Linked DNA regions of Homo sapiens. The protein of the gene in region 1 interacts with the protein of each later gene in a pairwise test. Each region holds a gene or a part of one and is shown on either strand. Other genes may lie near its edges.

Region 1 (4,214 bases):
CACATATTAACACAGAATGCATGGATTAGAAAGCATAACACATACCATTTACAATTAGGACAGATACATCTGTACATGCATCCTACTACTGCTACTACTAGCTTGCAAGCTGGTATTTTTGAAGCTTAAGGGAAATTAAATAATTTACTAAAGTTATACATGTAGCAAGTGAGCCGAGATTCAAACTTGGTCCTGCTTCTAAGGCCCAGACTGAGATAGTCAACAAACTTCATTGTCTCCATGGAATTATGAGATTCTACCTTCATCCCTTCTTCCCACATAACTTTAGTATGTGTAAACTCTAAATATTTTATGCAAGAATTCAAGTGAACATAAAGGAAGATATGACTATAAGACAATTGGGACTATTCTTCAGAAACTTCAGTCTCATTCTGTTTGGCTTATAAGAAGTTTAGTTTGCATATTTCTGTTAGAATATGGCCATAAAATTTAAGTAAACAAGAAAATCATGCATAAGACAAGCTTAGAATACAAACACATACCAGGTACCCAAATTTTTGCCTTGAATTCTTCAAACCCTTAGTTAAAGGAAAGAAATAATACCAGTGTCAACTCAACGTTATAAAAATGACTAACCCAAATTTTGCCCCACAATGAAACTATATTATTGGACTGTAAAAGAAAAATCCCATTCACAGAGCAGACACTTTTAGTTTTTACTTCACACGAGAACTGTCAGCACACAACATGGGTTGAGTTACTGATTTCTGCTATAAACAAGATTAACTGCTATACTGATTTTCGATCTCTTTAGTCTATTCTATTGTAAAGGGCCTTGACTCCCCAACAAAAATTTCGAGCTGTTCTGACTAAGCACATGCCTGAGAGGTAAATATTTCCAGTCTGTAAAAACTGGCGAAATTGACATGTGCTAGAATTTTAGTATCCCAGCCTGACCAAGTATCTTTCTGGATACTATTTGGTTCCCTCAGAGGTCTGTGGCCATCTTGAAAAGTGGTCAGCCTTCACATTTTCCATGTTGACGTTCACTCTGCACTCAAAAGAAAATATAAAATCTCTGAATTCCATGCATAAGTCATTATAACGTGGGAGGCTACGGAAAGTGGAAAGAACACATAGATGCAAGCCAGAAAATTTCTGCTTTCATGGGCACATTTGGGAGGTAATAGGGTTTTAGATACTTTTCTCTCTTTATTTTTATCCAGTGTAGAAAGAGCCGGCTCACTTAAGAAATACCAAGTGGTATTACGATGTCACTCCTAAGCCACATTTATATTTTAAGTTGAGCCTGAATTCTGGTTTCATTTCTTTTACTAAGAAGAAATATAGTTTTATTAACTTTTTAGGCAAAAAGAATTACACAAAAATTTTGCCTTTAAGACTTGACAATAATATTCATTAATTTCTGTCACTCAACCTTGACAAGTAGGTAAGTATTTCTGTCAAATCAAAGGAAGATAGTTCAACAAGTTCTGAGACAATCTAACTGGAAAGAGAGACTATAAATAAGATAAATCCAATAAAGCATTAACTCTTCTTGCTTTCATTTCTAATCTAGGTGCTTTCAACATTTCCAAATCATTTCTGTAAGTGTACACTTTTATTTTTAAGATATGCAATTTCTCAATTTTCATAACGATCATTATTACATTTGGCATCTTCATTCATTCCATGTCATGTGGTCTGATAGTTTTTTTAAAAAAATGAATGTCTGCAAGCTCTCCTATCCAGTTTCTATTTAAATTTTGATTTGTAAGATTTATAGTTAAATCTGTCTCTATGATTTAAAGACCAGATTATTAATAAATAGGAGCATTAGATTATTGTCAATCACATCTGAGTTTATAGGTCTCATTTCCTAAATCATCTGAATTGATTATAATCTATCCCCTAATAGAGAGAAATCTTTGTAAAAGACTGACTTCTCCTGTGAGCCTCCTCACTGGGCCGCCTTATTTAAAATTACATTTCAAAAAACTGACTACTTATTTTTCAGATTTCTATTACATTTCTTTTGTAATCCTATTCATGCAGTTTCATTCAGAATGAGCTCAGTTGCTGAGGATTTGGATGGAGGATCTGGAAAATTGTAGGTCATTTCAGGATGTTGGTTTTATGAAGTGAATTTCCATGGGGATTTTTCACTTCTTAAATTCATGTGTTCAAGCACCGTGACATTAACATCACAAGAGACTGTATGTACTTCTAATGATGCTATGATTCTGGAAAATACTTTTGAAATTTCCAAATTTGTGATATTCGTGCATGATTTTGAATTCATTGTTTGGGTTAATTTTGTAACACTTACCATGCCTTAACGTAAGAGTTTTATAGCATACAATATATACATTAAAGTTGAACAAAATTACTGGGCATGATGGCTCACGCCTGTAATCCCAGCACTTTGGGAGGCTGAGGTGTGCGGATCACTTGAGCCAGGAGTTTCAGACCAGCCTGGGTAACATAGAGAGATGATGTTTCTACAAAAAATGCAAAAATTAGCCAGGAGTGGTGGCGTGCACCTGTAGACCCAGCAACTTGGGAGGCTGAGGTGGGAGGATTGCTTGAGCCCAGGAGGTCAAGACTGCAGTGAGCCATGATCGCACCACTGCACTCTTGCCTGGGTGATAGAGCAAAAAAAAATAATAATAAATTAAACAAATTAAATGTTACCGTATTTAACAATTGGAGACATTCTAGTTTGAAAATCACTGATCTATATTTGATATCAAATGATCATGCTCTATTTTTGCACTTGTCTCTGAAATAGAAGACCACCTTATAATTTGGCCTGCCAATTGTTCTTAGAAAAGAAGAGCTTGATAATAATTACTACTGCTGATTCTACAGCCTGAGAGAGCAAGGTGCAGATGAAGTACCACTGGCTGAAATCAAGTGTTCAGTCTGTAGAACTGACAGTAGTTAGTTCATAATCACTATTCATCAAGCATTTATTTAGTACCCAGTGAGTGGCAGAAACTTGTCTAAACATTAGGAATATAAACCTGAATTGTATAGTCTACCTTTGCTACTGAAGCTTACCAATTTTGTGGGAGAAACTCCTGTAGACAAGGATAATAGTTACAAAGAAAGTTCTATCATAGATATCTATCTGTGGTAAATATCTATCTATCTGTGGTAAGTTTTCTGCCTCCAGAACGTTCAAGTCAAATGGTATTTGAGGTACAGTTTCCTACTGGATAGAAGAAATCTTCCTTTCTTTCTGGCTTCAGATTTCTACTATTCTAGAATTACCTCTTTGGAAAAGATAGCAGAGGTAACAATAAATTCCAGAGAATTGCTTGCAACTCGAAAACTCACTAGTTACCTTGGAGGGTAACATTTATCAGAAACATTTCAGAGAATTTTTTTTTTTTTTTTTTTTTTAAGACAGAGTTTCACTCTTGTTGCCCAGGCTGGAGTGCAATGGCGCCATCTCAGCTCACTGCAACCTCTGCCTCCTGGGTTCAAGTGATTCTCCTGCCTCAGCCTCCCGAGTAGCTGGGATTACAGGCATGTGCCACAATGCCAGGATAATTTTTTATTTTTCCTAGAGACAGTTTTCTTCATGTTGGTGAGGCTGATCTCAAACTCCTGACCTCAGGTGATCCGCCTGCCTCGGCCTCCCAAACTGTTGGGATCACAGGCGTGAGCCACCGCGCCCGGCCTTCAGAGAACATTAAGAGAAGAAATTTTTCAAAGAAAACAATTTTAGCATGTGTTCCAGAACAAATGATTCAAGTCTTCCGATTGAAGGGAACTCATGAGGATGCAATGGTACCAGAAAGAACAATAGACCACGTAAGAAATGTCGTTGTGAATTTTCAGAACATAGGAGGTAAGCAAATGGTTCTAAATGTAATCGGAGAAAGAGAAAAAGAGATGATATATTAGGAGCTGGGAATCAATGGTATCAGATTTGTCAAAAGTAACAGTGCAGGGAAGACGACAGGCAAATACGACTTCAAAATTTGGATGGGAAATTATGTCTGCCTTAAAATTATATGAAAAGTCTTACTTTTTTTTTAACCTCTTCTCAAAAGCTACTGGAGAGATAGCTAACCCCAAATTAAAAAATAAACACAGTGGGAAAGACATGGCAAAAGGAAGCCAAGAATTCAGCACAAGTGAGGAAGGTATAGAATTTTCAGGATAAAAGTTGTGTAGCAAGTCCAGTGGTCAATCATTTCACATAACTCCTAAAGTTGTCTCTGGGAGATGTCTCTAAAAAA
Region 2 (4,214 bases), on another chromosome or scaffold:
TGTTTGTTTGTTTGTTTGTTTTTTGAGATGTTGTTTCTCTCTTGTTGCCCAGGCTGGAGTGCAACGGTGCGATCTCGGCTCACTGCAACCTCCACCTCCCAGGTTCAAGCGATTCTCCTGCCTCAAACTCCTGAGTAGCTGGGATTACAGGCATGCGCCACCATGCCCGGCTAATTTTTGTATTTTTAATAGAGACGAGTTTTCATCATGTTGGCCAGGCTGGTCTCCAACTCCTGACCTCAGGTGATCCACCCGCCTCGGGCTCCCAAAGTGCTGGGATCACAGGCATGAGCCACTGTGCCTGGACGCACCTAGTTTTAATATGAAAACCCAGAGATTCCATATGACACATTCTTAGACCATAACGCAAAATCATGAAAAAACCCATCTGTAACATATATAAATTCATGTGTTTCACAACAATGAGAGAAATTTTATCATAAATGACAATGGAGTTAAAGAAACATAATGATCTATATCCACCTAAAGAATTTAGAAAGAGACAAAAGGGAAAGTTTAAGGGATAAAATTAAGAAAAAAAAATAGACATAAAAACATCAGAGAGTGATTCAAGGACAATGGTATAATCAGAGATAGCAGGGTAGGTTTCAAATACAAAGGAGGAAGTGGATTCAAGGAAAGAGTTAAAAAGAAGAACAATACAGTGGAAGTTACAAGGAGTACAGGCAGGAGAGGAGTTCAGACCAAAACACCTAGGCACTGGAGAAATAAGGTCTCCCATCCAAACATATAATTGTGAATAACAGGAATGAGGGAATGTACACCAATTTGACTCTCCTCCAAACAGGCTCTCCATCTCAAATTAAGAGCATCACAACTCACCCCACCATCTCTAGCAGAAGATCCAGAAGTTTAGGCAGAAAAAGATCAATAAAAGAGGCTGGCTGGTTGAGGACTGGGCAAAGTAAAGAGCTCATGCCTCACTAGACAGCACTGACTGATTTTTGCAATGTGGAAATAAAAGCCCAATGCTGACAGTACCTCCAAGTTTAGAAGAGAATGCAGGCCAGAGTGGTGGCTCACGCCTGTAATCCCAGCACTTTGGGAGGCCGAGGCGGGCAGATTACTTGAGGTCAGGAGTTCAAGACCAGCCTGGCCAATATGGTGAAAACCCGTCTCTACTAAAAATTCAAAAATTAGCCAGGCGTGGTGGCGTGCACCTGTAATCCCAGCTACTCTGGAGGTTGAGGCAGGAGAATCGCTTGAACCTGGGAGGTGGAGGTTGCAGTGAGCAAAGATCAAGCCGCTGCACTCCAGCCTGGGCAACAGAGCAAGATACTGTCTCCAAAAAAAAAAGAAAAGAAAGAAAGAAAGAAAAGAAAAGAAGAAGAAGAAGAGTCGGCAGAAAAATAGATTGCCAAGTGAAACCTCCAGATTTTTAATGGCTAACAACCAATGTAACTTTTTTAAAAAACTGTGCAGGCTAGGCTGGGCGCAGTGGCTCACGCCTGTAATTCCAGCACTTTGGGAGGCCAAGGCAGGCACATCACAAGGAGACCGAGACCATCCTAGCCAACACGGTGAAACCCCGTCTTTACTAAAAATACAAAAATTAGCTGGGCGTAGTGGTATGCGCCTGCAGTACCAGCAACTCAGGAGGCTAAGGCAGGAGAATCGCTTGAACCTGGGAGGCGGAGGTTGCACTGAGCTGAGATCATGCCACTGCACTCCAGCCCGGTGACAGAGCTAGACTCCGTCTCAAAAAACAACAACAATTAAAAATAAAAATAAATAAATAAATAAACAAAAAACCTGTGCAGGCTAAACAAGTCCTCTCAATTCTTCCCATTTCTACCATTATCTTTCATCGTACCGCCAGGCTCTTCCCTTCTCCATTCCATCTTCACCAATTTCAGACTTTGTTTTCTAAAACCATAATGTCACTCAAACCCTTTAAAAGCTTCTTGATGTCTTTGAACCAAATGCCAAAACTTCAGATGGGCCTTGAAGACCTTAATGTGGTGGCATAATCTCCTGCCTTAATCCCCGCAATTTAGTATTTCGAAAAGACTCCCTTCTCTTTTCCACCTTTGTGCCTTTCCTAAAGCTATTCCTTCAGCCTAGAATACCCTTCCTAAGAGGTATTCTATGTTCATTCATCTATGTTCAGCTTCTATGTTCATTCAGCCATTAATCTATTCCACAAATAAATATGTAATGGGAACCTAACTTCGTACCAGACACCAATCTGGGCACTGTCAATACAGTGGTAAACGAAACAGATAAAAATCTCTGCCTTCATAGAGCTACATACAGAGACAGAAAACAAGTAAAACGTATAGTATGTCACACAGGAAAAGGTGTCCTAGAGCAAGAAAAAGCACGAAGGAAGATTAGGATATGAGAGAGACATTGTGGATGGAAGGTGGAGAAGGCTGTAATTTAAGGCACCACTGAAGGTGACATTAGAGCAAACAACTGTAGGAACTGGGACAAGAAGATTCCAAGCCAAAGGAACATCAACAGCAAAGGCCTCAGGCAAAAGTGCGTCTGTTGTTTCTAGGTGATATTCTACTCTCCCCATACAGCCCAGCTTGAGTGCCACTTACTCCATGAAACCAGTTTTGATTCCTACAAATCAGAATTACACATTCCCATGACACCACATCTGTATCTTCCTCAGGGCACCTTGTACAGTGGAAATCCTCTTTTCAAACATATACAAGAGTGATCATTGATCTATTAACCAAAAAAGTCAGTTAAGGCAGAAACCATTTAAAATGATATCTATTTTAGCCATTTTAGTCTTAAATACATAATTATACATTCATTTCCCAATGTAGCACCAAGACCTTTTTTTTGAGTGTAAGTCTGCCAAACACAGTTCCCCACTTCCTTAGATAAATCACACCCATAATCCATTAGATCTACAATGTCCATTTTCCTTTCCTTTAAGTAGAACAGGGGCTTAAAAATACTTGCAGTGTTTTCTGGGAAATCCTTCCAAAAGTTTACAGGGTTTCTCCACTCTGTTTCAGTTGTCTTAACCATAATTTAATTCGTTCAGAGGCAATTCTTTCAGCTTCTTGTCTTTATCAAGTCTTTTCAAAGCATTTCATAAAAACAACTTTTTGTATTCATATTTCATCGATTTGAGTAATATTTATTAAATTATACTCATAATTACCACTGGTATAAATAAGTTTGAAAACAAATACAACTGACTCTTGCTTAGTAAGCAGAAAAATCAAATGACAAACGAGAGCCAACTTAGCATTTGAGCATCTCTGTGCTTGCTGTGGGAACTGATTAGTATGATTTACTAAGGGAATGATTACTCCAAGATGTCAAAATCAAGCCCAGCAAAGGATCTGAATAGACATTTCTCCAAAGAAGATATACAGATAGCCAATACATTCATTAAAAGATGCTTAATATCAATAGCCATTAGGAAAATACAAATAAAAACGACATTGATACATAACTTCACACCCACTAGGATGGCCAAAATCAAACAGACAGACAATAACAAGTGTTGGAGAAGATGCTGGAGAAATTAGGATCTTCAAACATTGCTGGTAGAAATGTAAAATGGTGCAGCCACTTTGGAAAACCGTTTGGTAATTCCTCAAAATGTGAAACACAGAGTTACCATATGACCAAGCAATTCCACTCCTAGATACATACACAACAGAACTGAAAACATGTGTCCACAAAAAACTTGTCCATGAATGTTACAGCAGCATTATTCATAACAGCCAAAAAGTAAAAACAACTCAAATATCCATCAGTAGAGAAATGGATATGCAAAATGTGGTTTATCCATACAATGGAATATTATTTGGCCATAAAAAGGAATGAAGTTCTGATACACACTACAACATGGATGCACATTGAAAACATTATGCTAAGGGAAAGAAGCCAGACACAAAAGAACACACCTCATATGATCCCATTTGCATGCATATCTAGAATAGGCAAATCCATAGAGAGTAGATTAGTAGTAACCAGGGACTGGGGAGGCGAGGAATGTGGAATGACTGTTAATAGCTATGAGGTTTCTTTTGGGGGTGATGAAAATTTTCTGGAATTAGAGAGTGGTGACAGTCGTACAATTTTGTGAATATATATAAATCCACTTAACTGTACCCCTTTTAAAAAATCCTATCTTGTTCGTGCTCAATAAATGCTTATTGATGGGGACTGCTGTAGGGAAGCAAGCCCAGATGTGGTAAACAGAAACTTCCACTATA
Region 3 (4,214 bases), on another chromosome or scaffold:
TTATGGTACTTTTCAAGTTTTTTTTTTTTTTCCTATTGGTTTGTTTTGTGATTTGATTTTTGTTCAACTTTTGAAGTAGCCATTAGTGGGAAGGTTAGTCTGAATCACCTAGCCTGCTGTTTTCAGAAGCAGAAACACCTGACTTTATGTTCTTCATATATGGTTTTACCATCCTGTTCCCTCTGTTTGATTTTAGAGAGATTCCCTAGTTGCCCTATCCAATGTAGTAGCTCCTAACTACATGTGACTGTTGAGCACTTAAAATGTAGCCAGTTTGAACTGAGATGTGCTGTGAATGTAAAATATATACCAGATTTCTAAGACTTACTACAAATAAAACAATGTAAAAGATTTTAAGTTTTATAATTGCATATTAAAATAGTATTTTAGCTATATTAGGTTAAATAAAATATTATTAAAATTAATTTCCCTTGTTTTTACTTTTTTAATGTAATTTAAAAAATTTTTAAATTACATATGTGGCTTGTGTGTGTGATTTGCATTATGTTTGTGTTGGATGGTGTTTGCTATGTAATAAAGTAGTTAGAACACAAGATCTGTGGTCTGGATTTGATTCTTGCCTATACTATTTACTAGCAGTGTAATCCTGGGCTACTTTTTGAACTTCTTGCTTTAATTTTCTCTTCTATAAAATGAGAATAATAGTAATATCCATTTCAAAGATATATTGTGAGGGGAAGATAAAAGACGTAAAGCTGTTAGCACAATCGATAACTTTAAGTGTTGATTAAAATTTAGCCACTATTTATGTTTTTGTTATCATTGTTGCTGTTATTATAGTATCAGATTTTATACTTCAGTGGGTTTTTTCTTTCTCTCCCTCAAAATTTTCCACATTACTCATAGTAATAGAGTTCTTAGCTGGATACTGTAATTTGACTGGGGACAGACATATGTACAAATTACATAAGTGAGGAAGGTGTCACAAACAAATGCTCATTAAGTTTGGCTGTAGAAAATTTTTAATGCTTCTCCAAGATAATATTACCTAAAATATTTCTGTAGACTGGTAACTATATAACCAAGCTTTATAATTATGGTCCAGAAAGGAGTCACATAGCCAGGAAATGGTGGTGTGTTGGAAACAGTATTGTTCTGGGACTTGAGGCCTGGGCTGTAGTCCAAATTCTGCCACTGTGTTTGTCTAGACTCCAGTTTCCTTATTGTAAAATTGTGAGGTTGTATTAGATGCTCACTTATGCCCCCTTTAAGGTTATATAATTTTAACATATTAATACCTACATTTCACATATTTTGAATCTACAGTTTAATTATCCTTAGGTTTTTCAGCTCATATTAGAATGGTAAGAGACTGAAGATAAGGTTACAGGAAGTATAGAGTCATGGTAAGATAGAGGCACAATTTTTTCACCCAGAAAAATCTTACAAGATGCTTTAGGTTGTAACTAAACTATTTTTTTTTCTAGAATTGACTTTAATTTTACTACAGTAAAATGGAAACTTTAGATTGTATTATATTAAGATACTACATAGATAGACATTATTATTATAGTTTAGTGGAAAGATTGCTGGCCCTATCGGAATATCTGGGTTTTAACCCCAGTTTTGCCACTAGATAACTTAAGTAAATCCTAAACAGGTTTTTTTTTGTTTGCTTTTTCCATATGTAATAATTTGGACTGTAATAATGTAACACCTCACTCAGAGTATGCACTTGAAAAATTAATTCTTACTTAACTGGTCTGTCTACTGTGTAGGATTTGCATTAATATTGTGAAAACACTTTAGGGGAAAATAATTTAAAATATATGAATAGACATATAACTTTTCTTACTTTGATTATTTTTGCAAATTTGTTCTATTTAATCTTAAAGGGATTGTTTCTTTGTTTTCAAAGTATAGACCATTGAGAAAGAGGGAAAGCTCCCCAGTATATTTTATGAAGTTAGCACAACCTTAAACCTGTTAAAGCAAATTTAAACCTAGTAAAGATAGTATAAATACACAAACTGTGTACATGCACACATGTATACACACACACACACACACACACACTCCTATGTGCTAAAGTTTCAAATAAAATACTAGCAAATGAATTCAGCATTGTATTTAAAAATTATATATATTGACTAGAAAGGCTTTATCCCAGGAATATAAAGATGACTCTACACTACAAAATCTGTACATAATTCATTATAGCAACATATTAGAGGTAAATTTATAACTAAGCCAGTAGGTATTTCTCAAAAAGAAGGAAAATCATTTGATAAAAATCTAACAACTTCATTCATAGGGAAGTGCAGAGTAAAGCAACAGTGAGATGACATGCAGGACTGGCAGCATGTGAAGAAATAGGCAATCATACCTTGATGCTAGTGTGAAGTGTTACTGCTTTTTGGGAAAAAAACAACAATAGCTTCTGAAATAAAAATGCACATTATCATTTGAATATTCCTGTTTCTGGGAGTCTTTCCTACACAAAATAATATATTAATATTAGTGTATACTATAATGTTAATATATACTAATATAGTAAATTAGGACTTATATGCAGGGATATTTGTTTCATAGTTTGTAATAACTAAAAATTAGGAACAACATGAATGTTGATCACCGAAGGAGTGACTGAGTAAATTATTCTACACTACACCGTGGAATATAGTGTAACCATTGAGCAGGAGGGATAATATTGTTGAGTATGGAATGGCAAATTATAGATTACTGTGTATAATGTAATCCATTTTTTAATAAAAAGGGAGAAGCCTTATATATGTTAAATGTGTGCATGAGCCGTGAGAAATGTGTGGGAGTATTGAGTTAAGAGGGGGTGGGATAGGTGAAGTGAGAATATCATTTTTATTTCATATGCTTCTGTAGTGTTTGATTTATTGTGAAGAGCATTTATTTTTGTATAACCACATTTAATGAAGGAAAAATGCTAAATAAATTCAAAGTATGAGCATGTGGGTTCCAAAGATGCTGCATTTGGCCAGCCAGAGACATGGAAAATGTAAAAGTATTATGCTACACCTTCTATTGTGGAGATATTTGTTATAATTTCCATCCACAACTATTATAACATTACTTCTGAAAAGAAAGATATCTTATACTAAGAAATGGTGGCATTAATGATTTTTTTCTTTTATAGCAACTCCGATCCAATATCCGAGAAATTGAGAAACTTTGTTTGAAAGTCCGAAAGGATGACCTAGTACTTCTGAAGAGAATGATAGATCCTGTTAAAGAAGAAGCATCAGCAGCAACAGCAGAATTTCTCCAACTCCATTTGGAATCTGTAGAAGAACTTAAGAAGCAATTTAATGATGAAGAAACTTTGCTACAGCCTCCTTTGACCAGATCCATGACTGTTGGTGGTAATGTATTGTGCTAAGTCTTATTCTCAGTCACAGTAGTGCAGTTAATTAAAGATCACCTCCTTGAGTAGATACTGAATTATCTATAGGTCTTCAGAGACCATTCACTATCCCAATATGCTGAATCCTTGGACCCTGATCAGTGTTCCTGGAAATGTGTACCCTGGATATTTTGCAGAATAAAAAATTTAAGGCTATGCTTATGGAGTGGGACTTCAGGGAAAGTACCCGTTTGTCTATTTATTGAAGAGAAATTTAAATATATTTCCTAAGGATAATGTCATTCTTGTCTGCAAAGTACTCTTTACTCCTTTCCAGGTGCAGGGGTGACCTCTTCAGGCATGCTTTTTTTTCTTAAGCATTCTGATTTTCAGAGGGGATGTTAGATCTATCTTTCAGCCAAGTTCTCTGAATAACTGACAACATTAAGTAATCTACAATGGGAGTTAAGCCATCATCTTCTGTGAAGTGATACTCTAAGAAACAGCCCTGTGAAATTTGTCATTACATCTCTTCTAAGGATGTAATTGATAATTGCTGATCACATTATAATAATGTCTTTAATTCTGAAAATATTCTTGGCTTAATACATAGTAGTACTTCAAAGTAGTTGGTCTTTTTTTTTAAAATCTTTTGGGTATTCAATGGAATAACTGATAAGGTTTTCCTACTTAAATTGTTTACTAGAAAGCTTAGAGCCAAAATTTTTAGCCACCAAAAGTCAGATTTTTAAACCTATCCTAGCTTTGTTTTATAACTACTGCCCTTGTTTTCTTTTTTTGTTTCAGTGTTTCTCTTTTGTTAGTAACTTGTCTCATCTTGTTATATTTTATAAATTATTCTAAGCTACCTTTAATC
Region 4 (4,214 bases), on another chromosome or scaffold:
TTTTCTGTTTCAGACTTATTATGTTATTTCCCACCTTATACTCTAAATTAAAATAATGAAGAATGACTTGTGGTTCCTCTAAATGCCTTGCTCTTCATTGCCTCTCAGTTTTTGCATGAGTTTCTCCTATGGTGAATACATTAGGAATGTTTTGGCTACATTTCTCAGAAAAGTGGCTGATGGTGGCTTAAACATCAGCATAAGGTATCTTATTCTCTTACATAACAGGTTTGGTGATAGGTGGTTCAAACTTTGGCTTAGAAACTCAGTGTAGTTTTCAATCAAGGAGATTAGATTGACATTTCTGCAATTTTCTAGCCTTACTCTGAAGGTCACAAAATGACTCTGGCAGTTTCAGGAATTAAGTCAACAGGCCAGCATCCTAGTCTGAAAAGAATGATCATAAACATAGGCTTTCTCTTCATGATTCTGTGTCAGTTTGCACGGGGGGCAAAAAAAGTCCTTAGGTAGAATATGTTGGCCTTGGAAGAGAGGCTGAGAAAGGGAAATAGATTAGGATCCATCAGAATTTATCCCTTGGGGCTGGATATATTGCTATGCCACACAAAATCAAGGTCATATTAGCTTTGAAATTGTGGAGAATGGCTCCTGTGTAGGCAACTAACAGAGTCTGCTATACTCAGCATAGAATACCATTCCTTCTTGTTGACTTTCTTGTAATTTTTATTTCTTGAGACAGGGTCTCACTCTATTGCCCAGGCTGGGGTACAATAGCACAATCATAGCTCACTAAAGCCTTGAACTCCTGGGCTCAAGTGATCCTTCCACCTCAACCTGAGTAGCTGGGCCTACAGGCACACACCGCCATATTCAACTAATTTTTTAGTTTTGTAGAGATAGGGTCTCACTATGTTAACCAGGCTTGGCTTTCATTTTTTAATACGAAGACTCATTTGTTTTGTAGCCCATTTCCTCTGAGAGCCTTTCTTTGATCCTGCCTTTATTCCCTGCTAATCTGGGTTGGCAGTCTAGCCTACATACATTCTCATATCATAGAATTTATGATGCTCCAATCATCTGGTGTGTTTTTTTTTTTCCTCCTGTGTCTTCATCTGGCAGTGAGTTCCTTAATGACAAGAGATTGTTCCTTTTCTCTCTGTGACTCCCAGTGCTTGCCGTAGGATAGATAATTTAAGGATGCTTATTTGATGACTGACAATGAGGGAGGAAGCTGAGCCAAGCCTCCTTTATGACATTTTTCTCCACAATGAGAAAACTTTTGGAAAAAACAAAGCAAATCTAGAATCCTCTGTTCAACTCTATCCTACTGATCTCACTTTCTTTCTCAGTCTCTTCCTACAAGGTGCCCTTTCCTCTGAAGGGAGGAAAGTGTACCAATCATCTATACCCTGACCCACATTATTCACAATAGTCATGTGCCATTTCTTACTTTCCCTGCGACATTTGCATTTCTTTAGGGCATTTTAAACTCAGAACCTAACACAATACTGAATCCGTAATATATAGTCGGTAAAGCTTGACATATTTTTGGAGTATTTCTTTTGAATACATATTATATATTCCAGAACTCTATAGCTAGGGATGTGGGTAGGATTAATACTTGCTTTGTTCTCATTAGCCAGTGAAGTTCTTTGGTTGTTTGAGATTGTGGAGTTTTCCTAAATGAAGGCTAGAATAATTTCTCATTTCTATTATTTTTTTCAGGTCTTTGGCTCAGGCGTTGGGGTAGTCTCTGTATGTCAAGGAGTACAGATTGGACTATCTATGGCTATTTACCTAAAGCAAGTCACAGCCACGGTACTTATTAATGGGACCAACTTTCCTTTTGGCATTCCACAGGTATATCATGGTCAGATCCATCAGCCCCTTCCCCATTCTGCACAATTAATATCCACCAATGCCTTGGGGTTACTAGAGCTCTATCGCACTTTTGAGACAACTCAAGTTGGGGCCAGTCAATATTTGTTTCCTATTGAAGAGGCCCAGGGGCAATTCCTCTTCATTGTAGGAGAAGGTGATAAGACTATCAACAGCAAAGCACACGCTGAACAAGCCATAGGACAGCTGAAGAGACATGGGAAGAACAACTGGACCCTGCTATCTTACCCTGGGGCAGGCCACCTGATAGAACCTCCCTATTCTCCTCTGTGCTGTGCCTCAACGACCCACGATTTGAGGTTACACTGGGGAGGAGAGGTGATCCCACACGCAGCTGCACAGGAACATGCTTGGAAGGAGATCCAGAGATTTCTCAGGAAGCACCTCATTCCAGATGTGACCAGTCAACTCTAAGAAGACTAGATATTCCTAGAAAATAAAGAAGCAAATCTCTTTACCGGGACCTTCTCTCAATTTTCATGGCGGAATGTCTCCCCCAGCTGCCACACACACATTTTGTATTAATTTTAATGATTAAAAAGAGCATAGGGTAAAAACCTGATATTTCACTTATACTGCATAACAAGCTAACCAAACTGGACATGGTGAATAAATCATAAAACAAATCATTTTACTTATTATTTACATGACTTTTCTTTCCATCAGGTCTTCTAAATAGGACTGAGGTATAGTACACTGGCAAAAATAAGAAAAGGCAAACAAGAATAGCACCAAAGTAACAGATATAAAACCAAATACCATGTCAGAAAACACTATATAGTAAGAATTTATCAGATTAGAGCAGCAGGAGAAAATTAATACTAAATTATAATCATTTTAGTGATATTTTTCAACTTCACCACAGTAACTTTGCAACATCATTTTTCATTTGTGGGGTAGTAAAATTCATGTCAAAAAGGAAAGAAGGAATGGAGGAGGTCAGTTAGTTCATTGCAATAAATTACCTCTTCAGTTCTTAAAAACATGCCCATTGGCACATAACTGAGACATAATAACTAAGACTGGAAGAGCCTTGGTTTAAGTTATGAAGCAAATTAAAATGGAAAATACAAGAAAATAGAACCAATTAGGTTGAAAATGCCCCTTACTGAAAATCTGTATTAAAAATAAAATTAATAAAAGTAAAAAATAAAAATAGAAACACAACTCTACTAGTACAGGCTAGCCTGGGGAGTTTGATAAACTGAGTGATTGGGTCAACTATCACTGTACTTCCATAATGAATTTCTTCAGTCATGTTAGAGTAGCACATGAATGTGAGCTCTATAAGGACAGGTACTATATTTCCGTAAGACCCAATAGTTACTGTACATCCCATAAATAAAAAATACTTTAGTTTGCTAACCAACTGAATATATGAGGACTGCATGTAATTCAACCACATGGTTGTTTGCTGTACAGTCCTTTGCAAATATTAAAAAATTTTTTTTGCTATAAGGCTTTGATCATATAGTCCTCATAGCAACATAACTACCATCTAGCATGTACCACATTTTGCAAGACTTTAAGTTCAACATTCCAAACTGCCAATTTGTATTATGTCCAAATGCAGTATCCTTGAGGAATATAGTGGGTCAGTTAAATATCTAGAGACATACAAACATCTGCTAATTCATCTCATTGAGATGGATCATTCTGATCTCCATCATCCACCCACTTTTCATCAGCTTCTCCTACTTCATTCTCCTCATAGTCTTTATCATGAGGGATTCTGTATCCTGTCTCTCATCTACACTTGCTGGCCTTCCTGGTTGTGATTTATTGGAACAGTCTACACAAAAACCATAGGGTCAAGATCCATGTCTTACTCCAACACTGGCTGCTAACATGATCTTACATACCATACATTTGCATTTTTATCCTTCTTGTGCACCAAGAAATGTTTTCTTACATGTTTTCTCCAAGTGTAAAAAGTCACAGCTAAATGATCTCACTCCTGTATGAATAAGCAAGTGCTTTTTTAGTGTTTGTTTGCATTTGGCTGCATAGCTACAATGATGGCATTTTAACTTATTCATGATTAGAGATGATGATATGGTTTGGATATTTGTTGTGCCCAAATTTCATGCTGAAATGTAATCCCTAGTGTTGGAGGTGAGGCCTGGTGGGAGTTGTTTGGGTCATGGGGGTGGACCCTCATGGCTTGGTACTGTCCTCATGAGAGTATGATAGTGAGTGAGTTCTCAAGAGATATGACTGTTTAAAAGTGTGTGGCACCTCCTCCCCATCCTCACACTCTTTCTTGCCTCCTCTCTCGCCATGTGAGATGCCTCCTCGCTGTTCACCTGCTGCCATGATTGTAAACTTCCTGAGGCCTCCCCAGAAGCCAAGTA
Region 5 (4,214 bases), on another chromosome or scaffold:
CATCTGCCCATCCCACAGGGAGATGTCTCTGTGGAAGATGGGAAGCCCAGCCACAACTCCCAGTGGCCTAGAAAGCTAAGGCCATGCACCAGGGCAGGACAGCACAGAGGCCTCACTCGGGCCAACCTAGCTAAAGGTGCTGCTATGGCAGCAGGCAGCTCCCAGCCCCTAGGCCCTGCCCATCTCTAGGGCTTGAGCCTGGGCCAGAGATCTGAAGGAGGTTTAGGGTCAGGGTCCTCCATCCTGAAGTTCCGAGTGACAAATTAAAACACAACAAAATAATCCTTTTGTTAAAAGAATGACCCTGGGCCCTCCTGGCCAGGGCCTGAGCACATTTCAGTCTGTTATGCAGGCTGAGAGGCCAGGCTCCTCCAAGGCCCCATGAGCTACTGGTTGTTGCAGCCCTGTGAGGCAGAGGAGCTGCCTGCCTGCTTTTTTCTCCTCTTGTTGAGGAGCCGGTTGTTAGAGGTCTTCAGGTCCTTGATCTTCACCTGGTCGTAGTCTACCCGCATAGTGGCCAAGGCACTGGTCATCTCCTCCTGGGGACAGACAGGATGGTGGGCACTAAGAGGTCAGGATGTACTGACCTTAGGAACCATCACCCCCCTGCCTGGGCAGCCCCTTAATGTCAGTGACAGCCTGTGCTGCCTCTGTGCCCACTGTGTGCCCAGCACTGGGCCAAGCCCTTTGCATCACATGATCCTCACTACCGTCCTCTGTGGTAGACACTGAGCTTATTCACTAAGGCACAAAAGGAGAGTTACTCCCTCGGACCACACCAAGGGTAAGTGGGATAGTGAACTAAACCAGTTCCACCACAGAACCACAAGACCTGCAGAGAATGCCATCTCGCTGGGCAACCAGCGCACTGGGGCCTGGAGATTGTGCCACTGGAGCTGCTACTCCATATGTTCAAACGTGGCCTCTGCTGGGTCTAAACCAGGCTGACCACCCTCCCAAATGTTGTTGGTTATAAGAGAGGTCATCATCCAAGCTTGGTACCAAAGCCCCGTTTCATTGAGGAAGTGAGCCAGGAGCACCACACTGAATGGCGTAGTGAGGCCCAATCCTTGGAGTGCCATGGTTGGACCACTGCGACAGTCACTGACACCCTGTGCTCCAGGTATAGAAAGGGGCCAAAGACCCCAGACCCTGGGTAGCCACCCCCCTGAAGTCCCTTTTGCCCAAATCCTGGCACCTGTATTGAGACTGAGGCAGAGCCCACCCACCTTGACTTCGTCCCAGTGGTCTTTGTCCTCCTGCAGCACTCGGGCCGTGTGGAGTGGGGTCTGTGGCACTACCATCGATTGCTGGAAGGAGCCCCACGCCCGTGGATTAGAAACTGGAGGCACCTGGGACAGCACTGGTTCCCCCTACTCCATCCTCTTCTCCCAGACTCAGATGGAAAAACCAAGGCTCAGGGTGGGGAAGGAGCCTCACTAGGGCAGTGACAAAGCCAGGTTGTAGGTGAGGCCCTAGTATCTACCTGTGTGCATGGGCCCATTCCAGCCCTGCACTGGGGCCTCAAAGCAGAGCCACCACCCTCCTGCCCGGCAGCCCCACTCCTGTTGGACACCCTGCCTGCCATGGGAGGAGGAGGGGCTCACGTTGATCCAGGGGTGGTTCATGAACTGAGTGATGGTCAGCCTCTCTGTGGGGTCTGTCTTCAACAGGAGGCGGATCAGCTGCTTGGCTAGGGGGGCCAGGGAAGAGAGGGGAGAGATGAGATTGCAGAGCCAGCCCCTCCACCCTTCCCCACAGACCACAAGCTCTGCTGGGGCAGGGGCTGCATGTGCTCCCAAATTCCCAACCCACAGAAAGAGTGAGCTAACAACTATTTCTTGTTTTGAAACACTAAGTGTTCAGGATAATTGGTTAAGCAGCAGTAGATAACTCATACAGGGCAGCCTTGTTTGTGGTCCTCAAAGGGGAAAATATGAATGAGGAATAGGAGTTAGAGGGAGTTTTGAGGAGGCAAGTTTTGAGCCTGTTTGGCAGATGTAGAAACTGAGGCTCAAGAAGGTTAGGGGACTTGCCTAGGGTCCCATAGCTGGAAAGAGGGGGAGCCAAGATTTGAACACAGGTCAGTTTGACACCAAAGTGATGTTTCCCAGAATGAAAGCCGCAGGGGCCAGGTGAGTCAGGCTGGGACAGAGAGGTTCACTCACCATCCTCAGAGACTTCTGACCACTCAGGATTGGGGAAGCCGTACTGGCCCAGGCGAATCCTCCTCTTCATCCCCGGGGAGATGGCCTGGCCCGTGTTGGAGTAGAAGGGTGGGAAGCCACAAAGGCTGGGGGAAGGGGTAAGTCATTTGGCATAGGGTGGGAGCAGTGCCAGGGTGGACCCATTTCCCCTCAAAAGCCCCTGACTGGGGAGACAGACAACCAGACACCATAGCAATAATACCAGCCCTCCGGACTCCCAGGCACATCCCAGGAATGCCATCAGCCCTTGGCATGGGGAGACCCTCAGGCACCTGAAGGAGTGGTGTCCCATGACCAAAAGGGAAGGGCAGCCTGCATGAGGAGTGACACACACAAGCTCCTCACCAAGGACATGGGGGTGGGGGGACAGAAGTGGTCCTGAGGGCTCACAGTGGGGGTAAGGGCAGGAGATGGAGGCAGGGGGTGGGGAAGGTACTCACAGGATGTACATGATGACACCCAGGGACCACATGTCACATGACTTGTCATACTTCTCTGGACCCAGGACCTCAGGGGCTGCCAGGGCAGAGGGACAGCAGGGCTCTCAGACCCAAGGGTCTTGGAGCCCAGGCAGGAGCCTAAAGCCTGGGCAAGGTGGGGAGCAGGTACCTGGGCTGGGAGGTAGGGCAGAGCAGACTGGCGTCTGGCACCTTTTGGAAAGGCAGCATGTGTGTGAAGTTGGGGGAGGAGAAAGCTCCTGGAAAAAAATCAACCACTTTCAGACATACCCCTAGCTCCCTTGGGCCTGAGCCCCTCTACCAGTCTCAACCTTGGTGAAAGAAGAGAAGAGAAGGCCAGTCTGGGGCTTGGTGGGAAGCTACCGTAGGTGAGAGGGTCTTGGCCTGCCAGCTGTCCTGTGTCCCTTGCCTCCCTGAATGCATAGCCTAGGTCACAGGCAAGGAAGAACCAGGGACAGGGCTCTGCATTCCATCATCAGCTTGGCTACCAATCCATGGAGCCTTTGTCTTCCCTGTGCAATGAGGTGGGTAGGCTAGAAGATTTCTAAGTTAAAATACTTAGTGCAAAACACATCCTAGTTAACAGAGTGCCATTTCAACTGTCTCAGGGAACTTCCCACCCCTTCAGCAGCCCTCCAGGAAGACCTCTTCTGAGGGAGAAAAGCCCTCTGTCATCACCCCACTCTCAGGTTAGGGGGCAGTTTTGGCAAGGAACATTTTCAGATCCGGGGGTTGCCCACTTGCAGAAGGGCAGTGAACTTTTCCAGGAAGCATGAGTATGTGCACACCTCCAAGCCCTGGCTTTAGTGACCGTCTCCCACAAGGCAGGTGACTGGTACCCTTTGTCCCTCCAAGTTAGGAGGAAATGCATGCCCACTTTCTGAATATGAATCCCAGGAAGACAAAAACTAGAGAAAAACAACCGCGGTTGGGCTCCGTCCCAAGCTGATGGCAGCCTTTTATCACATATATATTTAGAGCTGCTGTGATGTCATTCAGCTCACAGGCCACAGCCAGAATTTTCCTGGATCTATTTTCAAAAGCAGAAGCTGAAGTTTGGGAGAATATTTTTGCAGCCTCCGGCCCCCCACGTCACCCGCCTCCATGCAGACAGAATTCTCCCCCTCCCTCCTTGCTGGGCTTTAACCCTTTGGTTTCTGCAACCCACTGGCTACCCCATAATACAGCTGTATAAGTTGGGGTGAGGAGTTACAACTCATGTCCGAAGGACTCACCCACATAATAGGGAGTATAGCAGGGTGTCTGCAGGGCATTTTGGGTGGTCTCCTTAGCAAAGCCAAAATCGGTGAGCTTAAGCACTGCGTCTTTCTCCTTAGATGTGTAGAGTAGGTTTTCAGGCTGGGCCAGAAAGAGAAAACATTGGTTTGGAGTTAGGAACCAGGCAGGAGCAGAGCCCCAAGGTGATCTTCAGCCAGACTCCCCGACTCCATCCCAGTGCAGAAGGAGCCAGGTCCATTTATAAAAAGACCCGGGCCTTGCCCACTAACATGGGCCAAATATAGAGAAACCCAAGGTGCTACCTTCATTC
Region 6 (4,214 bases), on another chromosome or scaffold:
GTTGAATATGTTTGGTCTAATAACTTGATTGCTTATTATACTTTTAATTTGTCTCTCTCCTCCCCATTAGAATGCAAGCTCCATGACAGCAGGGGTTTTTTATATCTGTTTTGTTCACTGATGTATTCCAAGAACCTAGACCAATGTCTGGTACCTAGCAGAAGCTCAGTAAACAACTGTAGAATGAATAAATGAACTTCCCTCTTTATATGGTTATGCTGGCTCCTTACTGAGTTGTAACACAAAGAACAGCTTTTTGCAATCTGACATCTCCTTGGCAACCAGCTTCTTCTTTTTGATGGAGTCTCACTCTGTCACCCAGGCTGGAGTACAGTGGCAACATCTCGGCTCACTGTAACCTCTGCCTCCTAGGTTCAAGCAATTCTCCTGCCTCAGCCTCCTGAGTAGCTGAAATTACAGGCACCTGCCACCAAAACTGGCTTTTTGGATTTTTAATAGAGATAGGGTTTCATCATGTTGGCCAGGCTGGTCTTGAACTCCGGACCTCAAGTGATCCACCCACCTCAGCCTCCCAAAGTGCTGGGATTACAGGAGTGAGCCACCGTGCCCAGCCTGAAATTAGTTACTTCTTACTGGTATCGCTGTATCCACATCTTAACAGCCCCTTCCTTCATCCTAGGCTACTGCTTGGGATCTGCTGTGGGCTGGGGAAACCAGATAACATTTGTTAAGAACCATGTGTTAAAGTAAGCAGGCTCCATGTAAGAGCCCTGTGGCCTCTCTTCTGCAGCAAAGTGTATGCCTCTAGCAGTGGGACTTTGTTGGGGCAAGTTCTGTGCTAAGAGACTCTTCCCCTGTGACTCTGGGCTCCTAGAGTCCTCTGTGCCAGAGGCTGAGCTATCGACTACCTGACAGTCAGAATACAATGCAACATTTCTCAAGTCAGACAGTAAAACAAATAAGAAAACTTTATGTACATAAGTATAGAACAAGCACAATTTAGCTTCTGAATGATATTTGAAGACTCTAAGAACTACTGTAGCAAGTAGACAAGGGGCTGTAAGTCATAGGCCACCTTGTGAGGCAGCAGCCACTCTCTGCCAATGCTTTACTGACAGCCTGGAACTAACTGTGCTGACCACACAGTTGTCCAACAAAAGTCATCACATGATGGTACTGCAAAAATATTATTTTATACCTGTTTCCTAAAAACCAGTCATACTGACAAACACTCCACATACCTGCCTTCACAAATACCAAACTTGGCTAAATCTCAAAGTAAAAGTTCATCTCTCATTCAGAATGAAGAAACTGAAGATACCTTGTGAACTGAGCTGCCCAAGGTCCATCTCGGCATGAGGAGTAAACCGCACTTCTAAAGTGGCCACAGGAGCCTCTGTCACCCAGGCAGGAACCACGCTGCGGGGAGCTCCATCAGCCCTTCCAGCAGGGCAGTGAGGGGCCATGGGCTGTGTCTCTGCCCTGCTTCCTTGCAAGACTGCTGCTCCTTCCACTCTTTCTAGCTTCTTGTCTGTACCTTTCTCTGAAAAGCTCTTCTCTGGGCAATATGGGCCAATTTGTTCTTCTGCCACGCTGGAACTCTGATCACGTCTTGATTCCAAACCAAAATCCACTGCTATCTCCCTGTGCATAGGAAATGCTTGCTGAATTCTGGCTGTGTCACTGTGTGTCAGGTAGTTTTCTTCTGAAGTTCTGTCTTCAGGACATTTAGGTTTCCTCTTAGTGCTATGGTGGGGTTGTGGCTCATCACACCCTGAGAGCTGTCGCTGGTCACAGCTGTCAGTCTTGCTGTCAGACTGGGACACAGTGTTTGGTGTATGTTGGTTATTCTGTAAATTAAAGTCTGCTAAAGGCTCCATCACATTTTGCGGTGAGTCATACTCAGCTATGTAGGGCTTGATGTCTAGTACGGGTGTGCCATGTATCATGTCAATTCCAGAAAGGTATATAGCTCCACCTATGACATAAAAACGTGAAAAATGAAGAACAGTGCAAACACTTGGAGAATACAGTCACGCCCCAGAATCCTCTAACACTGTCTGCTTACGCCTCACTGCACTTACTCATAATTCTCTCACACAGACCTAGTACCAACACACACCCTTCTTGCTACCTGGTAGCCCATCCTCTTCTCTACCTATCAAACTCCTACTTGCTCTTTGAGGCCCTCAAAAGCACACCTTTTACAAAGCCTTTCTGGCTCCTCCAGACAAAAGCATTCTTTCCTACAGTCCCCATAGAGAAGCCTGTGCACAAACCTCTGCTAGAGCGCTTTCCCCACGGTAGGGTAGTGACCTGCTTAGAGTCTTCATCCCTAGACGCAGGCAGGCCCCTTAACACAGGCTGGGACCAACTCATCTTTGTATCACTGGTGCTTCTGTTCCAGGGATATAGTAGTCCTCAGTATATCTCTGTGGGACCAATGAAGGTTCTTACTGTGGCAAACAGATCCAAAAGTGGCCCTGTGACCCGCACCTCCTGAAGTTCATGCCCTTATATAATCCTTCCCCTTGAGTGTGACTGGCTTCTAACCAACAGAATATGGCAAAAGAGGTATGATGTCCCTCCAGTGACTATGCTTTTCATTAGCACTGCTGCTGGCTGGAAGACTCACTCGAGAGACTCTCCTTGAAGGCTTGCTGAAGTAGGCAGGCGTGCTAGGAAGCCCACATAGCAAGGAACTGCAAACAGCCTTTAGACACTGAGGGCAGCCTCCAGCCAACAACCAGCAAGAATCTGGGGCCCCCAGTCCTACTACGATGGCAAGGAAATCAATGTGGCCAACAGTCTGAGTGAGCTTAAGCAGATTCTTCCATGGTCAAGCCTCCAGATAAGAACTCATATCAGCTGACAATTTAATTGCAGTCTAGTGAGACCTAAGCAGATGACCTAGTTAAGCTGTGCCCATCCTTCTGACCCACAGATACATAATAATGTTTCAAACACATAATACATGTGTGTTGTTTAAACTGATGATTCTGTGGTAATTTGTTACACAACAATAGAAATCTAATACATCCATCAAGACTCAAAAGATTAAGCAGCACATAAGTCAGCATTACCAAATACTAAAGACAAGTCTCCAGCTGTCCCACTGGACAGATGCTGTCCAGTTACTGCTACAAATAGCCATCTACTAACCTTACTCTTGGAAAATAGGCCAAATGAGAACAGAAAAACTACATGCAGTCACATTTGATTCCGTCTCCATTTAAGAAAAACGTAACTAATACAGGACCCTGATTTCTGAAACATGTTATTATGAATGAGCTGGAACTCTGGAAAGATGATTCTGGACTTGCTAGATGATGAATTATGCCTAACAATATCTGTAGGAAAAAGAAAGGCACTGTAGCATAAGTAAGACTTCAAAGGATTTAGAGTCAGATGACCACCTGGCTGGATGCTATTAGACAGATTATCTAATCTTAAAGAGCCCTAGTTTCCTCACCTATGAGATGAGGATTGCTACTTTGTCAAACCCACAAAGCCACTGTGAGATAAGGTACGTGAACACTGTTTACTAACTGTAAAGCACTGCACAAACACTAGTTGCCATAAAGCTTATATAGTAATGTCTACAGTGCTACTGTGTTTGCCTTTTAACCTATCTGACTTGACCTTCCCAATTGAAACATTAAGTTCTTTAGGGCATGGATTTCTACTTTCATCTGATTTGTTTATCACTATAGCTCTAGCACCTAGGACAATGTCTGGCACATATTCAGTGCTAGAAAATATGTCCCTGAATAATCATAAAATCTTCTAGTACTTGCTATCCAAGTTTGTTAGCCATTACAAATTGATAAAATTCAAGGTGGATCAGCTACTGAATTTTTCTGAGAAAACTACCTAAGGCCCAGTTGAGTACAATCCAGTGGGAGAGTTCAAGTTCTGGGAAAGAACAAGCAAAATAACTGCTCTCATCTATTTAGTGTCCAATAGCCTGAAAAAGTAGTTTTAGAACTTCTCTCTTACAAGATTCTCAAAATATTCTGTGGAATCACAGAGGAAGCAGGTCCTTCTCCTTTGCCCACTTCACAACCAGCAGGCTGAAGCCTGGAATGGTCTCTTGACTCCTAGTTTACCTGCCATTTCATCTGCTGCCTCTATAACAAATGCATCTGTTAGGTCAGAATGGAATGCTTTCCATAAATGCGTAACTAGGTTATATACGAACACACAGTTAAAACTAGTTTAAAACTTCTACAACCTGACCAATGTTTGTCCTT
Region 7 (4,214 bases), on another chromosome or scaffold:
AGTTGCTCTCTAGTGGCAGATAGCACAGATCTGTCTGTGTCCTATCTGCAGCAGTCTCTGTGCTGTCTGCAATCTTGGCCAAGTCAAGATCCTTCAGTGGTCATGTTTGAGCAAGTGGATGCCCAAGGACTTTGACAGTTAGTTTATAACAAATTTTTTTTTGTTTTGGAACATGGCATAACATCTTTTCTAATAAGAGAGTATTTCAGGTTCTGGAAATATCATGGTTACTGTATATGCTGTGTTTAATCATTTTCTTTCTCTTTTTTTTTTTTTTTTTTTGAGACAGTGTCTCACTCTGTTGCCCAGGCTGGAGTGCAGTGGCATGATCACAACTCATTGCAAGCTTAATCTCCCAGGCTCAAGCGATCCTCCTGCCTCAGCCTCCTGGGTGTCTGGGACTACAGGTGCGCACCACCATGCTCAGCTAATTTTTTGTATTTTCTTTAGAGATGACATTTTGCCGTGTTGCTCAGGCTGATCTTGAACCCTTGGGCTCCAGTGATCCACCTGCCTTGACCTTCAAAGTGCGGGGATTACAAGTGTGAGCCACTGCATCTGGCCTAGTCATTTTCTTATGATGGTTTTAGAAATTCCTATTTTTACACCACATGGCAAATTGTAATGTTATGTAGTATTTGCACCGTGTAACCAGCTCATGGCAAGCACTTTAAACATACCCTTAGGTTCCTTCTGTATTGGTGTAGTTCTGTATTTGTTCTCTAGGTTTACACTTTTTTCTTCAGCATATATACCTTAGCCTTTATAAGAAATGGAATCTTAAAGGAAAATAAACTGTTGAAACTTACCTTTAAAACTTCCTAATTCATTTCAATATGACCTACAAATTAAGTGTCAGTTGCCTGTTTAAATTTAAAAGATGATTGAGCTCCTGAAGATCTAAAGATATTTAAGCTATACCAAATGCATTTTCTTACCTTAATCCCAGGTGCTTTTCAATTTCCAGGAATTTGTTGAAATATTTTGTCTTGGCAAGGATGAACTGAATACATGTTCAGTTTACCACATAGAATCTGGTGCTGGGAGTATATTTTAAACCTTGATGAGGTGGATTCAAAACCATTTAGAGAGAAAGGGGCACCCATTTGCAGTGTGTAAAGTCTGGATCTTCCTCTGAATGGAGAAATGTGCGTTCTATATTTATTCCCACAAAGAACTAGAATATAAATATTGAGATCTGAATGCCTTTTATTTATTTATTTTTATTGATTGATTTATTTACTGGCCTTGGCAATCCTCTGAGTTTATACTTGAGCTTATTTTGCCTCTAGATACAGTGCTCCCCGCCGAGTTTATCTGCACAGCTGCAGCGCCGGGAACATGATCACCAAATAAATCCTAGGGTGGGGGAGCTTGTCTTGCTTTCTGGCTGAAGGAAGTGTAGTTGCCTAAGACAGGAACAGAGGGACCTCTTGCCCTTCCTACAGTTTTTCCTGTTATAGGAAGTATAATGTCCTACAGAGAAGGACAGAAAGATGGTTGGTGCAGTGTAGGAAGTGGGAGTTGTAAGGTCAGACAGAGGCCAGCAATTGGGGGAGGGATAAGGAAGCCTGCTTATACTTGGAGTTGCCAAGAAAAGGCCTGCTAATCACCCATATACAAGTTTTCAATAATGAGAATTTCCTCAATATACTTAACAGCAAGAGTCCTACACAGGAAGCCCTGCAGTAAGTGGCCAGAGAATTTGCCAGATGCAGCCATTTTTAGCATCACTGAACTCTACAGTGGATTTTAAATAGTACTGGTTGGGAGGAGACCAGAGTTAGATTAAGCCTTTTCTCAAAGTTTGGTCTCTGGACCAGCATATTAATATTGGAACTTGTTAGAAATGCAGATTCTTAGAGCCCAGTAGTCTGTGTTTGAACCACTGGCCCAGCCAATTCAACCTAATTGTAGTGGCAAAGTCAAAATATTGGGAAAGAATGAGTGAAAACTTCATTATATGTTAGAACATCTTCTGATGTTTATATAGGGATGGCAGGGAATGCTGTTTCAAGTTGAAGGACGGAAAAAACAGCTTCAGTTATAGATACCAGTAACATGCAACATTGTTCCTGTAGGTGGAGAATACCCCCATTTGTGGCTACAATTCACCCTGGTCTGGAATCTAAATTCTGCCAGATTATAATACAAGAGAGCTTTTCACTTTGCCTCTTTTTTCGTTTTAAATATTTATTCCTTGATTGTATTAATATTTATATATGCATTGACCAGTGAAATTTTGTTTTCATGGCTTTGTGATGGCAAGAGTTGGTTTAAGTAGCTCATTGGTTCAGAAACACTAGATACATAAAAATTATCTTGATATCCTGTGTAAAATGTAGATTATTGGCTGCTATCCTTGCATGTCCAAGAATCTGCATTTTTTCTTTTTTGAGACGGAGTCTCGCTCTGTCACCCAGGCTGGAGTGCAGTGGTGCGATCTCGGCTCACTGCAAGCTCTGCCTCCTGGGTTCACGCCATTCTCCTGCCTCAGCCTCGCAAGTAGCTGGGACTACAGGCACTCACCACCACGCCCGGCTAATTTTTTGTATTTTTAGTAGAGACAGGGTTTCACCGTGTTAGCCAGGATGGTCTCGATCTCCCGACCTCGTGATCCACCTGCCTTGGCCTCCCAAAGTGCTGGGATTACAGGTGTGAGCCACCGCGCCCGGCCAAGAATCTGCATTTTTAACAGGCACCACTCACACCAGCCCACCCCCAACCTGCAACGTTGTTTATTGGGCTTGTGGTTCTCAGACTACATTTTGAGAAACACTGTGCTAAATTTCCAAGGAGAGTGATTTTAAAGTAACAGCTTTATTGAGATATAATTCACATGCCACAAAATTCACTCTTTAAAAGAATATAATTTATTGATTTTTAGTATATTTACAGAATTGTGCAACCATCACCACTGTATAATTTTAGGATATTTCCATCATTCCTCAAGGAATCCCTGTACTGATTGGCAGTGACTCCTCATTCTCTCTTTATCCCAGTCCTTGGCAACTACTTTCTGTCCCTGTGGATTTGCCTATTCTGGACATTTCATGTAAATGTAATCATAGAATATGTGGCCCTTCGTATCTTCCTTCTTTCACGTCTCACGGTGTTCTCAAGGTTCGTCCAGGTTGTGGCATGTCGGTACTTCAGTACTTCATTCCTTTTTACAGCTGAATAATATTCCACTGTGTGGATGGACATTTTGTTGATCCATTCATCAGTTGATGGTCATTTGGTTGTTTTGCTGTGCGTATGTTTTTTAAAACAATATTAACTATATCTGGGCCTTTTCAAATCATCACTGGATAATTCTGTAGAGTGTCTTAGAGGGGATTCCTATAGGAAGTGGGGACTGGATTTAGAGTCCCTTCTGTTCATGGATTTGAGGAGTCTGTATCTGTAATTTCTTTGGGCTAGTGAAATACATTCTTCTAAGAGCTAGAGCAGCTACTTTTTCTTCATAGCAGAACATTTGATATTGAAAAAAATCTTTTTACATGACTTGTTTAAGGACTATATTTCAAAATAGTTTCTATTAAAAATAGTATTCTTTAGCATTTCTGGGGAGGAGGAACTCTTACTGAAAAAGCTGGTATTTTTGTCTGTATTTTCTTTTCTTTTCCAATCTCTTCATTTTTACTCTACCGAACCCTATAACCCAACTCTATTAATCTAGATCCTCTTTCCAGCACATAAATATTTATGGACAGTAATAAATTATATTAGTTCTAATAGAGTTTAAAATGTTTTGTGAATTTTTATCCCAGCATGACAAAAATCACTGGGTGGTCTGATACCACCTTCATCTTTAAATATTTAACCAATTCTTTTTATTTTTAAAGGCTACATTAATTGAATGATATCCATAAAAGTGTTTAATAGTACTTACCTTGGGCCCACAGTGCGCAAAGCACTTCATGGAATTAAGGTCCTTTTTGCATCTGCTCTCCTCATACCTTATTTCAACTGTGGTACTCAAAATCTGGGCCCACCACTCTGCAGTGGGGACAGTGACTGAACTTGCATGTGACTAGGATTATGAAGGGTTTAGAAACTGTGTCATGTGAGAGTTGGCTGAAAGAATGGAGGTTGTTCAGTTGTTAAAGAGACTACTCAGGCAATGACAGCCCTCCCAGCCATTCAGAGCTTGTCTAGAGAAATCTTATTCTTCCTTTGGGTAGTAGTGGGGAGAAACTGGAGTGAAAGGA

Evidence for each region.
Region 2: the proteins of DLC1 (region 1) and TMEFF1 interact in a two-hybrid assay, tested with the Homo sapiens proteins (one large-scale study listed by BioGRID).
Region 3: the proteins of DLC1 (region 1) and STX17 interact in a two-hybrid assay, tested with the Homo sapiens proteins (one large-scale study listed by BioGRID and IntAct).
Region 4: the proteins of DLC1 (region 1) and BAAT interact in a two-hybrid assay, tested with the Homo sapiens proteins (one large-scale study listed by BioGRID and IntAct).
Region 5: the proteins of DLC1 (region 1) and MAPKAPK3 interact in a two-hybrid assay, tested with the Homo sapiens proteins (one large-scale study listed by IntAct).
Region 6: the proteins of DLC1 (region 1) and TRMO interact in a two-hybrid assay, tested with the Homo sapiens proteins (one large-scale study listed by BioGRID and IntAct).
Region 7: the proteins of DLC1 (region 1) and AOPEP interact in a two-hybrid assay, tested with the Homo sapiens proteins (one large-scale study listed by BioGRID and IntAct).

What each region holds. Positions count from the first base shown.
Region 1 is NC_000008.11:13,500,775-13,504,988, forward strand, and holds part of DLC1 (rho GTPase-activating protein 7), read right to left. Parts: intron 1-4,214. UniProt on the Homo sapiens protein: Functions as a GTPase-activating protein for the small GTPases RHOA, RHOB, RHOC and CDC42, terminating their downstream signaling.
Region 2 is NC_000009.12:100,479,308-100,483,521, reverse strand, and holds part of TMEFF1 (tomoregulin-1 precursor), read right to left. Parts: intron 1-4,214.
Region 3 is NC_000009.12:99,947,930-99,952,143, forward strand, and holds part of STX17 (syntaxin-17), read left to right. Parts: intron 1-3,130; coding exon 3,131-3,356; intron 3,357-4,214. UniProt on the Homo sapiens protein: SNAREs, soluble N-ethylmaleimide-sensitive factor-attachment protein receptors, are essential proteins for fusion of cellular membranes.
Region 4 is NC_000009.12:101,360,488-101,364,701, reverse strand, and holds part of BAAT (bile acid-CoA:amino acid N-acyltransferase), read left to right. Parts: intron 1-1,686; coding exon 1,687-2,274; 3' UTR 2,275-4,214. UniProt on the Homo sapiens protein: Catalyzes the amidation of bile acids (BAs) with the amino acids taurine and glycine. More than 95% of the BAs are N-acyl amidates with glycine and taurine.
Region 5 is NC_000003.12:50,644,219-50,648,432, reverse strand, and holds part of MAPKAPK3 (MAP kinase-activated protein kinase 3), read right to left. Parts: intron 4,025-4,214; coding exon 3,901-4,024; intron 2,724-3,900; coding exon 2,648-2,723; intron 2,294-2,647; coding exon 2,169-2,293; intron 1,694-2,168; coding exon 1,608-1,693; intron 1,311-1,607; coding exon 1,230-1,310; intron 540-1,229; coding exon 387-539; 3' UTR 1-386. UniProt on the Homo sapiens protein: Stress-activated serine/threonine-protein kinase involved in cytokines production, endocytosis, cell migration, chromatin remodeling and transcriptional regulation.
Region 6 is NC_000009.12:97,908,678-97,912,891, forward strand, and holds part of TRMO (tRNA (adenine(37)-N6)-methyltransferase), read right to left. Parts: exon of another isoform or gene 2,341-4,214; coding exon of another isoform or gene 2,241-2,340; intron 1,940-2,240; coding exon 1,283-1,939; intron 1-1,282. UniProt on the Homo sapiens protein: S-adenosyl-L-methionine-dependent methyltransferase responsible for the addition of the methyl group in the formation of N6-methyl-N6-threonylcarbamoyladenosine at position 37 (m(6)t(6)A37) of the tRNA anticodon loop of tRNA(Ser)(GCU).
Region 7 is NC_000009.12:94,732,843-94,737,056, forward strand, and holds part of AOPEP (aminopeptidase O), read left to right. Parts: intron 1-4,214. UniProt on the Homo sapiens protein: Aminopeptidase which catalyzes the hydrolysis of amino acid residues from the N-terminus of peptide or protein substrates.